Regions from separate parts of the Homo sapiens genome. Here region 1 is linked to region 2. The links come from fine-mapping of genetic effects on gene expression. A gene starts in region 2. The other region holds a variant in brackets. All regions are shown on one strand. Distances are from middle to middle.

The links.
Region 1: its variant is fine-mapped to the expression of C8orf90 in caudate (GTEx, PIP above 0.99). The same link has a PIP of 0.9 or more in nucleus accumbens and putamen.

What each region holds. Positions count from the first base shown.
Region 1 is chr8:141,444,368-141,449,729 of GRCh38, forward strand. It overlaps LOC105375789 (a long non-coding RNA gene), which reads left to right. Exons shown (of 3, transcript XR_928722.3): 1 at 1-2,746. It overlaps LOC124900270 (small nucleolar RNA SNORD5), which reads left to right and starts at 3,108; the gene lies at 3,108-3,182. It also overlaps MROH5. The variant G/C (reference allele first, on the strand shown) is at 2,516.
Region 2 is chr8:141,512,530-141,517,891 of GRCh38, forward strand. It overlaps C8orf90 (chromosome 8 open reading frame 90), which reads left to right and starts at 2,142. Exons shown (of 2, transcript NM_001395960.1): 1 at 2,142-2,246. The coding sequence starts at 2,168. LOC105375791 (a long non-coding RNA gene) reads right to left here and starts at 1,686. Exons shown (of 3, transcript XR_928727.1): 1 at 1,627-1,686; 2 at 1,329-1,379; 3 at 80-1,020. RefSeq lists silencers at 1,740-2,034, 4,120-4,414, 4,157-4,357.

The DNA.
Region 1 (5,362 bases), 68 kb before region 2:
GCCCATTTGAATTAAATAGAGTTGGCCCACATGGATGACGTGTGAGAACAATGAGAATTCCTTTGTGGGGCAGGGTGGAGACTGGCTGGAGGAGGACCCAGCTGAGAACTGACCAACGCAGGAAACATCTCTAAGGAAAAGGCTTTGTTAGTGGAGGAGCAGGGGAGAGGGAGGCCCCTCTGGCAGGCCTGGCAGCACCTGTTGCAGTCCTGCCCAGGGAAGGGTGCCCTGCTCAACCCCACTCGCTGCTTCCTGGTCCCAGAGGCCTGTCCATCTAAGCAGGACATGAGAACTTCAGAGGCCCAGGGCTGGCCCCATCAGGCCTCAAGACTCCCCTGCTGCCCCATGGTGTCCTGTGCCGCCCCCACCGTTTTGGGCATGCAGAGAGAGTGGCTACTCAGCACTGCTCATCCAGTTGTCCTTCTGGGCCCCTGTCCCCACCTTGACAGTGCCACAGCAGCCTGGCAGGGACCTCAGACCGTGAGCCACCGGGATACACCTGGGTGTCACTCTGCTCTCAGGCCTCCCTTTCTCCCTGGCTCCGTGGTGGTGCTGGGTGGCATGGCTGCTGGTTTGGCAACCGGAGCCTGGGCCCCTTCGCGGTGGTCGAAGAGGCCTGGGCCCATGCCGCTCCCTGGAGGGCGTGGGAGCCAGGCCTGGCCAGTCAGAGCCGCACAGGCCCCTGTGGCCAAGGTGATTGGTTCAGGATTGGGTATGTGAGCAAAGCTAGGCCAATCAGAGCCCAGGACTGTGCCCGTGGTGAGAGTTTTTTCTCTTGGGGCTGCGGGAGCTGCCGGGGCCACCTCCAGGGCTCCAGGAGAACCTGCCCGGAGCGGCCTGAGCAGAAACCACCCGTGGCCCCGCGCGAGGCAGAAGTCCCTGCTATATGGGGAGCCTGAGAGAGACAGACAGACGTCCCAGCTGTATGGGGAGCCCGAGAGAGAGACACGTCCTTGCCGGTGGGGGAACCCACGAGAGACAGATGTCTCAGCTGTATGAGGAGCCCCCAGTGAGACAGACGTCCCAGCTGTATGAGGAGCCCGAGAGAGACAGACAGACGTCCCAGCTGTATGGGGAGCCCGAGAGAGACAGACAGACGTCCCAGCTGTATGAGGAGCCCGAGAGAGACAGACGTCCCAGCTGTATGAGGAGCCCGAGAGAGACAGACGTCCCAGCTGTATGAGGAGCCCGAGAGAGACAGACAGACGTCCCAGCTGTATGAGGAGCCCGAAAGAGACAGACAGACGTCCCAGCTGTATGAGGAGCCCGAGAGAGACAGACGTCCCAGCTGTATGAGGAGCCCGAGAGAGACAGACGTCCCAGCTGTATGAGGAGCCCGAGAGAGACAGACGTCCCAGCTGTATGAGGAGCCCGAGAGAGACAGACAGACGTCCCAGCTGTATGAGGAGCCCGAAAGAGACAGACAGACGTCCCAGCTGTATGAGGAGCCCGAGAGAGACAGACGTCCCAGCTGTATGGGGAGCCCGAGAGAGATAGACAGACGTCCCAGCTGTATGGGGAGCCCAAGAGAGATAGACAGACGTCCCAGCTGTATGGGGAGCCCAAGAGAGATAGACAGACGTCCCAGCTGTATGAGGAGCCCGAGACAGACAGATGTCCCAGCTGTATGAGGGGCCTGAGAGAGACAGACGTCCTTGCTGGTGGGGGAACCCGCGAGAGACAGATGTCTCAGCCGCATGGGGAGGTCCCAGTGAGACAGACAGACATTCCCGCTGTATGGGGAGCCCCCAGTGAGACAGACAGACATTCCCGCTGTATGGGGAGCCCCCAGTGAGACAGACAGACATTCCCGCTGTATGGGGAGCCCCCAGTGAGACAGACAGACGTCCTTGCTGTATGGGGAGCCCCCAGTGAGACAGACAGACGTCCTTGCTGTATGGGGAGCCCGCGAGAGACAGACAGATGTCTCTGGCTCTTCGGGACCTTCCAGTCTATGGGTGAGGGCAGTAAAGCAGGTAAAAGGCGCAGATCACAGATGGTAGCTGATGGCGGGGCTGCGGCGAGAATAAAGCAGCAGAGGGTGGGAGGCGCCGAAGGGGCTGCTATTTTGGAGGGTGGTGGGGGAGGCCTCAGTGAGGTGCGGGTGAGCAGAGCCTGCAGAGACAGGATGGCTGGGGGAAGAACATTCCAGCAGGGGGAGGAGCAGACGGGGTGAGGCTTTCTCCCAACCCTCCCACGTTCCGGGAGGAGAAGGTTTTATTAGCTTATTAGGAAAGATTCATGCATTTTGCATGGTTGAACTGAATAAAAAAGGAACTTCGTGCACATTTGAATTCGGAGGCAAGATGAGAAGAAGTGGCATTTTTTTTAAGTGACTTGCCTTGGGGAGAGCTGTTAAAACTGACAAATTGCGTGACGCACATCATAATACAAACAAATGAAAAGAGTTGGCCCCAGCGGTTTTTAGACTTGCTTATTGGATTTTTGGAAATATGACCTGGTGCAGAGGGAAGATGAAGGCAGGCAGCCCTACTGAGGCCAGAATACGGTGGGC[G/C]GGGGAGCGGGCAACTGGCCGTGATGTCAGCCTGAGCATGTGCTGAGGACCAATGAGATGCCCAAGAGGGCATGGAAAGGCATCTGCCCCATGGGTGAGCCCAGTTCGCCTCTGCATGGACATGCTGTGTGGCCCAGGGGAAGCCTCTGACCCTCTCTGAGCCTCAGTTGCCTCATCTGTAGAGCAGGGACAACGACATTCATCTCGAGTCCTCGCAGGAAACCCACTGGGGTAAGATGTGGCTCACTGCATGGGTGCTTTTGGTAACTGCTGTCCCCTTGAGGTCGCTGTATGGCAGTGACACTAAGTATCTCTACTGCCAAGCACCGTCAGGTGACGGGTAAGTGGGACGAACACCTGTCTGCAGGTGCTGCCCACAGCCCCTGTGGCCCTGGCCATGGATGGGGCTCAGGTTCATGACTGTTGTGGGTTGAACTGTGTCCCCCCGAAAAGAGATATATTGAAGTCAACCAACGGTACCTGTGACTGTGACCTTATTTGGAAAGAAGGTCTTTGCAGATGTTATCAAGTTGAGGTCGTTAGGGTGGGGCCCTAACCCAGTGATTGGTATCCTTATAAGAAGGGGAAATTTATTCAGATGCTGAATTTAACTGTTCAACTGCTGAACCACTCAACAGACATGAACGAAAGCTTAATTCTGACAGAGCTGGAAAAAAAAAGGAGGAAATTTAAACACTGGCACACAAGGGAGAATGTCAGGTGACCACAGGGGCAGAGATGAGCGTGGTGCAGCCTCAGGCCCAGGAACACCCAGCGTGGCCATGAGACACTGGGAACCGGAAGCAGTGAGGAAGGCCCCCGCAGGTTTCAGGGGAGCACGCCCTGGTGACACCTTGGTTTTAGACTTCTGGCCTCCAGCACTGGGAGATGTTGCTTTGAGTCCGTGGGGTATGCGTCTTTGTTACTGTGCTCTATGAGGCTAACACAGTCTTTGCCCTCGGATGCCTGCGGAACCCTATGTGTGTCTGGCCAGGCCAGGAGGCCTGGGAGGCTCTAGTCTTACCTTTGGGGGCTGGGCACGGCCGCCTCCTGGGCCTGCTGCTTGGGCTAGGGCTCGCTGGGCAGGTTCAGCTCCAAGACATAGTGCATCTGGGTGAGGAGGGCCAGGAAGAGCTTGGGGTAGCCCTCCTGCACGGCCTGCTTGAACTCCCGGGCAAACTGCAGCTCGTGCAGCATGTTCATGGCCTGTCGGGGGCAGGCGTGGAGTGAGGCTCCCAGGCCCTGGGTCCCGGGACCAGGGGTTCTGACCTACTGTCCCACAAAAGCCACGTCCAAGCATGCTCGTCCCTCCCTGCTGCAAGCTCTCCAGGACCAAGTCCAAGTGTCCACATGCTGTCCCTCCCTGTGGGGCCTGACCCCGTGCCTCTGCAGACTCAGCCTGGCCGTCTCTTGCACCCTCTGGACCCACCGCTTGGGTCTCGCTGCTGCTGGATGGCCTAGTGGTCCCCAGCCTCCCCTAGCTGTCCACCTGGATGCTGTCCGCTCTACACTCCTGCAGACCTCCACCTTGACCCAGGGCCTCCCTCAGACCGCACACTGGATGCCACCATCTGCCCTCTGCACTTTGCTCCTGTCTAAGGGGTGAGCTGCTGGCGTCTGGGCCCTCTGCTCTACTGCCTTGAAGGCAAGGTCCTGTGCTGTGTGGTCTCACGGTACCCTCAGCTCTGTGGCTGGCACACAGCAGGGCCTGATGCCTGGGAGTTGGGGAACCCATGGCCCTGGAAGGCAGAGTCAGCTGATAGCAGCCCCCAACCCCAAAGGCCGAATGTGCCTGCCGGAGCCTTCAGTCCAGAATGTTCTCAGGGTGGGGCCAGCACTGAGCAGTGACAACTGGGGGGAGGGCAGGAACTGGCGGTGTGGTGGGGTGCAGGGAAGGCTCCCCTGCTACCCCTGGGTGGGTCTCACCCATGCTGCTGTGTGGTCCTCTGGTAGGGGGGCAGCATCAGCCCAGGGCCGACCGGGGCGGGGCTGTTGGGGATGGCCAGCTGATAAATCCCCAGGCCGAGGGGGTGCTCTCCCACCGGCTGCCATTGTTAAGCCCTCATCACACCCCTGCTGCAGGCAGCAGCTTGTCTGGGGGGCTCTGGGTGGTAGGGGAGCTGCTGTGAGCTCTGGGCCACTGCTGGGGTGCCTTTGGGGCAGGGACTCAGCCTGGAAAGCTCTAAACAGGAACACAGCTGTGGCCTCATCAGGGTCCAGGTAAGGGGGACAGGTGTGGCCATGCCAGGAGGGGAGCTCCTGGCTCCTGGGAGTGTGGAAGCAGTGCTGGGCTTATGAGGAAAACCAGGGGCTTCCTACAGGGGGGTGGCGGCTGCAGAGGGCAGCCTCTAAGATTCCTCTAGAATCTATGACTCCCCAGAACCCAAGCATGGGGAGGGTTCTCAACTCTCTCCACACCCTTCCCTATACCTGAAGCCCCTCTCTGAGGCCGCCCCACAGTGAGTGAGTGAGTTCCCTTGCCAGCCCAGGGGACTGACACGACTGTCCTGATTCACAGACAGGAGCTCACAGCCCTCGGCTAGGAGGTGGGAGCTGGGCCTGTGTGGTCAGCCCTGGGCGGCTTTCCTCCAGGCTGGGGCTGGACTGGGTGTCTGCAGCCTGGATATGGGGTGCCCCCCTACAGCCCGGCACAGAGTGAGTGCCCGAGGTGCTGCCAGTATTTGATGGGGCGGTGGCAGAGACTCACAGCCAGCAAACGCAGGTAGGTCTTCTCCTTGGGGCAGGGGCTGCTGTCGCTGGCACCGGTGGGCAGGGGTCGCTCCTGCAGACAGGCCAGCAGTGTGGTCAGCACCAGGTGGCTCGTGGGCTGCCCAGCCCCCAGGGCCC
Region 2 (5,362 bases):
TGAGTATCCCCATGGAGCAGAGCTGCCCTCGAAGCCTGCAGTGGCTGGACTGTTGCAGGAGGGAGACAAATGTTCTGTCTTGTTTTAGCCACTGTATTTGGGGGTGCTTTGTTGCAACAGCTTAGATGTCTCCCTGACTGATACAGCTTGGTTTAGAGGCCACTAGCCAGCTGAGGCTTGGTCCCCAGGAGGTGCTCAGTGGCGGTCTGCAGAATGAGCATGTCAGGATGAACTGTTTCTTCCTCTTGTAGTCACACAATGATATTGATAGCTGAGCTGCCATTCAGGACCATCATTCGGCCGGAGCCCACCAGGCTGAGCTGAAGTTGACCTGCGCCTGCCTTGAGAATTGGTGTCGGGGGGCCACCTGGCCGGAGCACAGGAAGGTGGAAAACACATGCTGGCCATGTGAATACAGGACCACACTCACCACGGCTGATTCTGAGGTCCGAGAGCTGGGTGTGCTCCTGCCTACAGGTGCCTGGAGGGCTGGGCTTCAGCCTCTGCTGGGTCTCCTGGGCTGCACCCCAGCCTTGCTGGAGGTGGGGGAGGGCATGGAGTGTGGCTTGTCTGGGGAGAAGGGTTCCAGCTCACCTGCTGGGGCTGAGCAGGCCTTTCTTTAAGTCTGGCCCAGAGGATATGGCCCAGGCCTGTCCTGAGGGGTTCTCAGGGGGGTGGGAAGACAGAATGGGTACAGGGTTTTGCCATGACAACCCTGGCCTTCCCTGCCTCCCGCATGCCCACCTTCCTAAGTCTGAGGCTGGCACTGACCTAGGAATCTCAGCGGAGGGAGCTGGAGCCTGGGCTGCTCAGAGGGTGTGGCCCCGAGGGGCAGGGCCCTGGACATGGGACCATGTGCAGCCTGAGGTCATCACCAGGACACATGGGAGCCCATGGAAGGCAATGGAGGGACCATATCCAAACAGATGACTTCTGATGGGGTGCCAGCCAGGCCTGGGAGGCTCTCAGGTACAGAGCAGGCCAGGTGGGCTTCCTGAAGGAGGTGATATGAGCCAGAACCTGAAGGGGGAGCATGAGTTTGCATTGCAGAGGAGAGTGGGAAGGGCACCCTCTCAAGGCAACTGCACAGAGATGTGGAGGTGCAAAAATACAGAGACCAGGAGAGGGGAGGGGCCCCTGCTCCCCAGTCAAGCCCCGTCCTGTCCTGCGTCACAGCCCTGCTGTATTAGAGGCTGTGGTAACAGAGAGCCTGGCATGAGTGACACTCAAACACCAGGGGCATTGACTGCTCAATCACATCCCAGTCTGTGGCTGGGGTTCTCCTTGTGAAGAGCCAGGCCCCAGCTCAGGCCCCTGGGAGCACTTACCTTTCTTTCCCTGAGGCCATCTCTGGCTGCCAGGCTCCTTACAAGCCACACCTGCTGGGGATACAGCAGCCCACGGCTGTTTGGGCAGGCGGGGTAGCTCTGAGGCCATCTCCGGTAAAACTGTGCTGGGATGCGTCTTCCCAGGCTTTGTTCCCTTCTCTGTCTCATGTCCCCACCCCTACCAGCACTTGATCCCACTTTGGGGGAACTGATATCCCCATGAGCTCTTTGTGGCTGAGGCAAGGTCTGACCTGCTTCATAGGGACTACTGGAGTTGCTGAAGATGGGGACTGCTGACCTGGGCTCTGAAGACTTCGGGAATGCCTGTGGGAGCCCCGTGGTCTGGAGGGACAGGCCAGCTGAGGCTGGATCAAGGCCTCGGCTGCCCTGAGAGCACTCACAGGCTGCGGCTGTGGACACCAGGCTGACCCGAGGTGAGTCAGGAGGAAGAGTGCTGGTGGGGACAGGCTGGCGGTCTCTGGGTGCCAGGTTCTCATGGTCTCTGAGCAGGGCAGGTGAGCAGATGTGACTGGGGATTGATCTCGGAGGGTTGCTGGGTGCAATGGGAAGGGTTAAGGATGGGAGGCTGGCCCAGAGGGTGGCCCTGCAGGGTCCAGGCGAGGGGCAGGGTGCTGGGTGAGGGGCTGCAGTGATGCCCACAGAGAGTTTAGTGCGCAAGAGGCCACTGAGCCCACAGGTCCCCACTCAGCCTCCCCCACAGCCCCAGCCCACTCCTGAGTGGAGGCCCTTTAAACGCAAGGTTCTGTCCTCCCCTGGGAGGCCCCTCCCCGTCTCCTGGGCAGCCTAGTAAACAGAAGCCTGTCTCCCGGGCTGCTGGCATGGCCTCCTCTTGTCCTGGGACCCCCAGCCCAGCAGGTCTGCCCCCTCCTTCTGTAGCCACTCCAGGCGAGACACTTGGTGAGGGAGGGGAATGGACGGGAAGGGGGACGGGGCACCTGGGGCTCTGAGAATGTGGGAGCAGGAAGCGGCCCTCTGACCCATCTTCCAGAAGAAGATGCTCTGCCAAGGTCATGAAGGAGAGTGGCAGTGGGGCTGGGCCAGGATGGGGGCATGCGGGCATCAAAGCCTCCCTGTAAAGGTCCTTCTCCTCCCTACGCTCCCCAATGCTCTGATGCTCTGAAGTCCCCAGGGAAGGGGTTGGCTCTCTTCCTGAAGCCTTTGGATCTATGGACCTGGAGGTGTGCAGGGTCCTTCTCACTCTTTAGGGCCCCTTCCGGATCATTCTCCTGCCCTTGCCTCTTCTAAAACTCAGCTCTGGATCTCAGAGGCAGTGGGAGGGGCAGCCAGCCATCCATTCACTCACCCATCTATCCACCCATCCACCCACCCATTCACCCACCCACCCATCCATCCATCCACCCAACCATCCATGCATCCATCCATCCATCCATCCATCCATCCATCCATCCATCCATCCATCCATCCATCCATCCATCCATCCATCCATCCATCCATCCATCCACCCATCCACCCACTCCTCCACCCACTCATCTGCCCACCCATCCGTGCACCCTGCTCATGGTCAATGCCTTCACTCCTAAAGACCCTGGCCCCTGCCCTGCCCTCTCCCTAGCTCTCCTGTCATCCTATTGGTGATTTCTCTCAGCCCCTCGGACTCCTGTAAGGATTTTGTCCTCTCACCCAGCCACCCACCCGACAAACTGTACCCAAACTGCAGTCCCCTTGTCCCCACCGCACTCTGGGGATTCTTGCCCCAGCTCCTGCCCTCGAGGGCCAGCCCCAGCACTCCTTTAGTGAGGTGGAAGCCCACAGTGTCTTCCACCTGTCTGGCCTCCTCCACCCCTCCTCACATCTTTGCCATGGCCTCTGCCCCCTCGCTGGCCCCTCTCCTGTTTTCTTGTACTAGTCTGGCAGCTCCAACTCCCTGCTACCCTTGCCTGTGCCCTTGCAGTGGGCTGCAGCTGAGTGAACTCCACCTTGCTAATGCCTGCACTTGGCTTCAGCAGCAAGGAGGCCGGCTCCGCTGCCCTCCCTGGTCTGCCCAGCCTCTCCTCACCTAGCAACCACCTCGCACCTTCTCTCCCTCTAAGCCCCCATCGTCTCTCTCCTCACACTGTGCTGCTGGCCTTGCACCCTCCTTCCCTGAGAAGCTGAAGGCATTGGAAGAGGACTTTGCTGGTGCCCACCCACTGTACTTGTGGCATTGGGCGCTGTCCACCCCGGCCTGCTCCTGTGAATGCCCCATCCCTCCTCCCAGCCAAAGGCAGCATTCAGCTTCTCCCATTCCATCCCCCAACTCACGCTGTCACTCCAGCAACTCTTCACCCTCTTTCTCCTGCATCATGATACCGCTCTTTCCCAGGTCGTTCCCACTGGCATGAAAGCATGCTGCGATTTATCCTGTCTCTTGACCCCACTTCCCTTCCGTCTCCTGCCCTACTTCTCTGCTCCACATTCAGAGCCGAACCTCAGGAAGGTCATTTGTCTTTGCTGCCTCCACGTTCTCCCCTCTCCTTTGCTCTTGAACCCACTCTCACCGGGTTTTAATTTCCAGTGCTTCACTAAAGCAGCTCTAGCAAAAGTCATCAATGACCTCTGCGCTGGTAAGTCCGAGGTCACTTGGACTCATTTGATGTGATGCGCCGGCAGCACACGGCTCAGGTCCCTGCTGCCACACTTCCCACGCTCCCATCACTGCCCGCTCCCTCTTGGTGCCCTCACTGGCTCCTCATCTCCTTGACCTGGTCAGGAGGGAGGACCCGAAGCTCTCTGCTTGCGCTTCTGCCCTTTCTAACCCAACTCCCTCAGTGATTCATCTAGTTTTGTGGCTTAAACATCATCTCCCCAGTGTCTATCTCCAGCCTCGACCCCTCTACAAGCAGAGCAGTCCAGGCTCTTGTGTGAGCGGATCTTCTCCAGCCTCTGGGCTCCACTCTTATCCCCAGCATGGCGCTGTCCACGGTGCTGATTTAGGAAAGTACTTCCCATTGATCAAACAGGCTGGTCAATGTCATCTCATCTGCAACTGCAGCAGAACAGGGTTGGTTGGCTCCATTTTCAGAGGCTCATGGAAGGTGAAAGACTAGCCCAGGCCCTGACAGGTGGAAGGACCCCCACGTCTGTGCTCCTCATGGCTGTAGTCAATGGCTCAAACAGAGCCTGCCTGCCACACAGTAGGTGCTCAGTGAATATTTGTGCAGAGGGAAGAGACTGTTAATCAAAAGGCCCTTGAGCCGGGGGCGTGGCATAGTGGAAAGTGATTGCCCAGCCCAGGGCTTCAGCTTGGCATCTGTGTATGACTTCTCTGGGTCTGTATCCTCACCAGTAAAACAGACTGAATATTGTTACCCCTCCCAAGGGTGTTGGGAGAAGGATCTGACAATTCATGGTCATATTCATCCATTCCCACTTCCTAGCCTCCCAGTGTGGCCATCCCCAGACAGCTGCCTGGTCTGGCTCCTGTGTCCACCTGACTACATTCTTTCCTGGACTGTGTGCCCAAGTGAGGTCCCATGGCTGCTTTGCTCACTTCAGTATCCCTACAGCTAAGCACATTTGCTGAATGAAAGAAAGAAAGAAGGAATGTAGGGGTCTCTCCTGAATGGAGGACCTAGATTTGGGCAGGGTGTGGACCATGGGCCAGCAACGTGGGTGCCTTCTGGGGACCACGGATAGGCTGAAGGGTGGCATGACTGAACCAAAACCAAACTCCTCTTCCACCTCCGCTCCCTCCTGGGGCCGCACCTCCCTCTGGATTCCAGGGTCAGCTGTGTCCAGGCTGCGAGCCAGGCTGTTCCCACAGGCTCCTCCCTGTCTCTGTCTACAAGGCCTGGCGATCTGGCCCTGCAGCCTCTCCCCAGGTGGCGTTTTCCCATCCTCATGTTCATCTTGTCCTCCCCTGGATCTGACCTTGAAGCTGGGCCCCCAAAGTCCATTCTCTGCACAGCGGCCGGATCAACTTTCAACTGAGAGTGACTGCTTCACCTCCTGCCCCAAGCTGGCCACTGTCTTCAGGGAGAACCTCAACATCCTAAGCTCGCTCAGTCCCCACG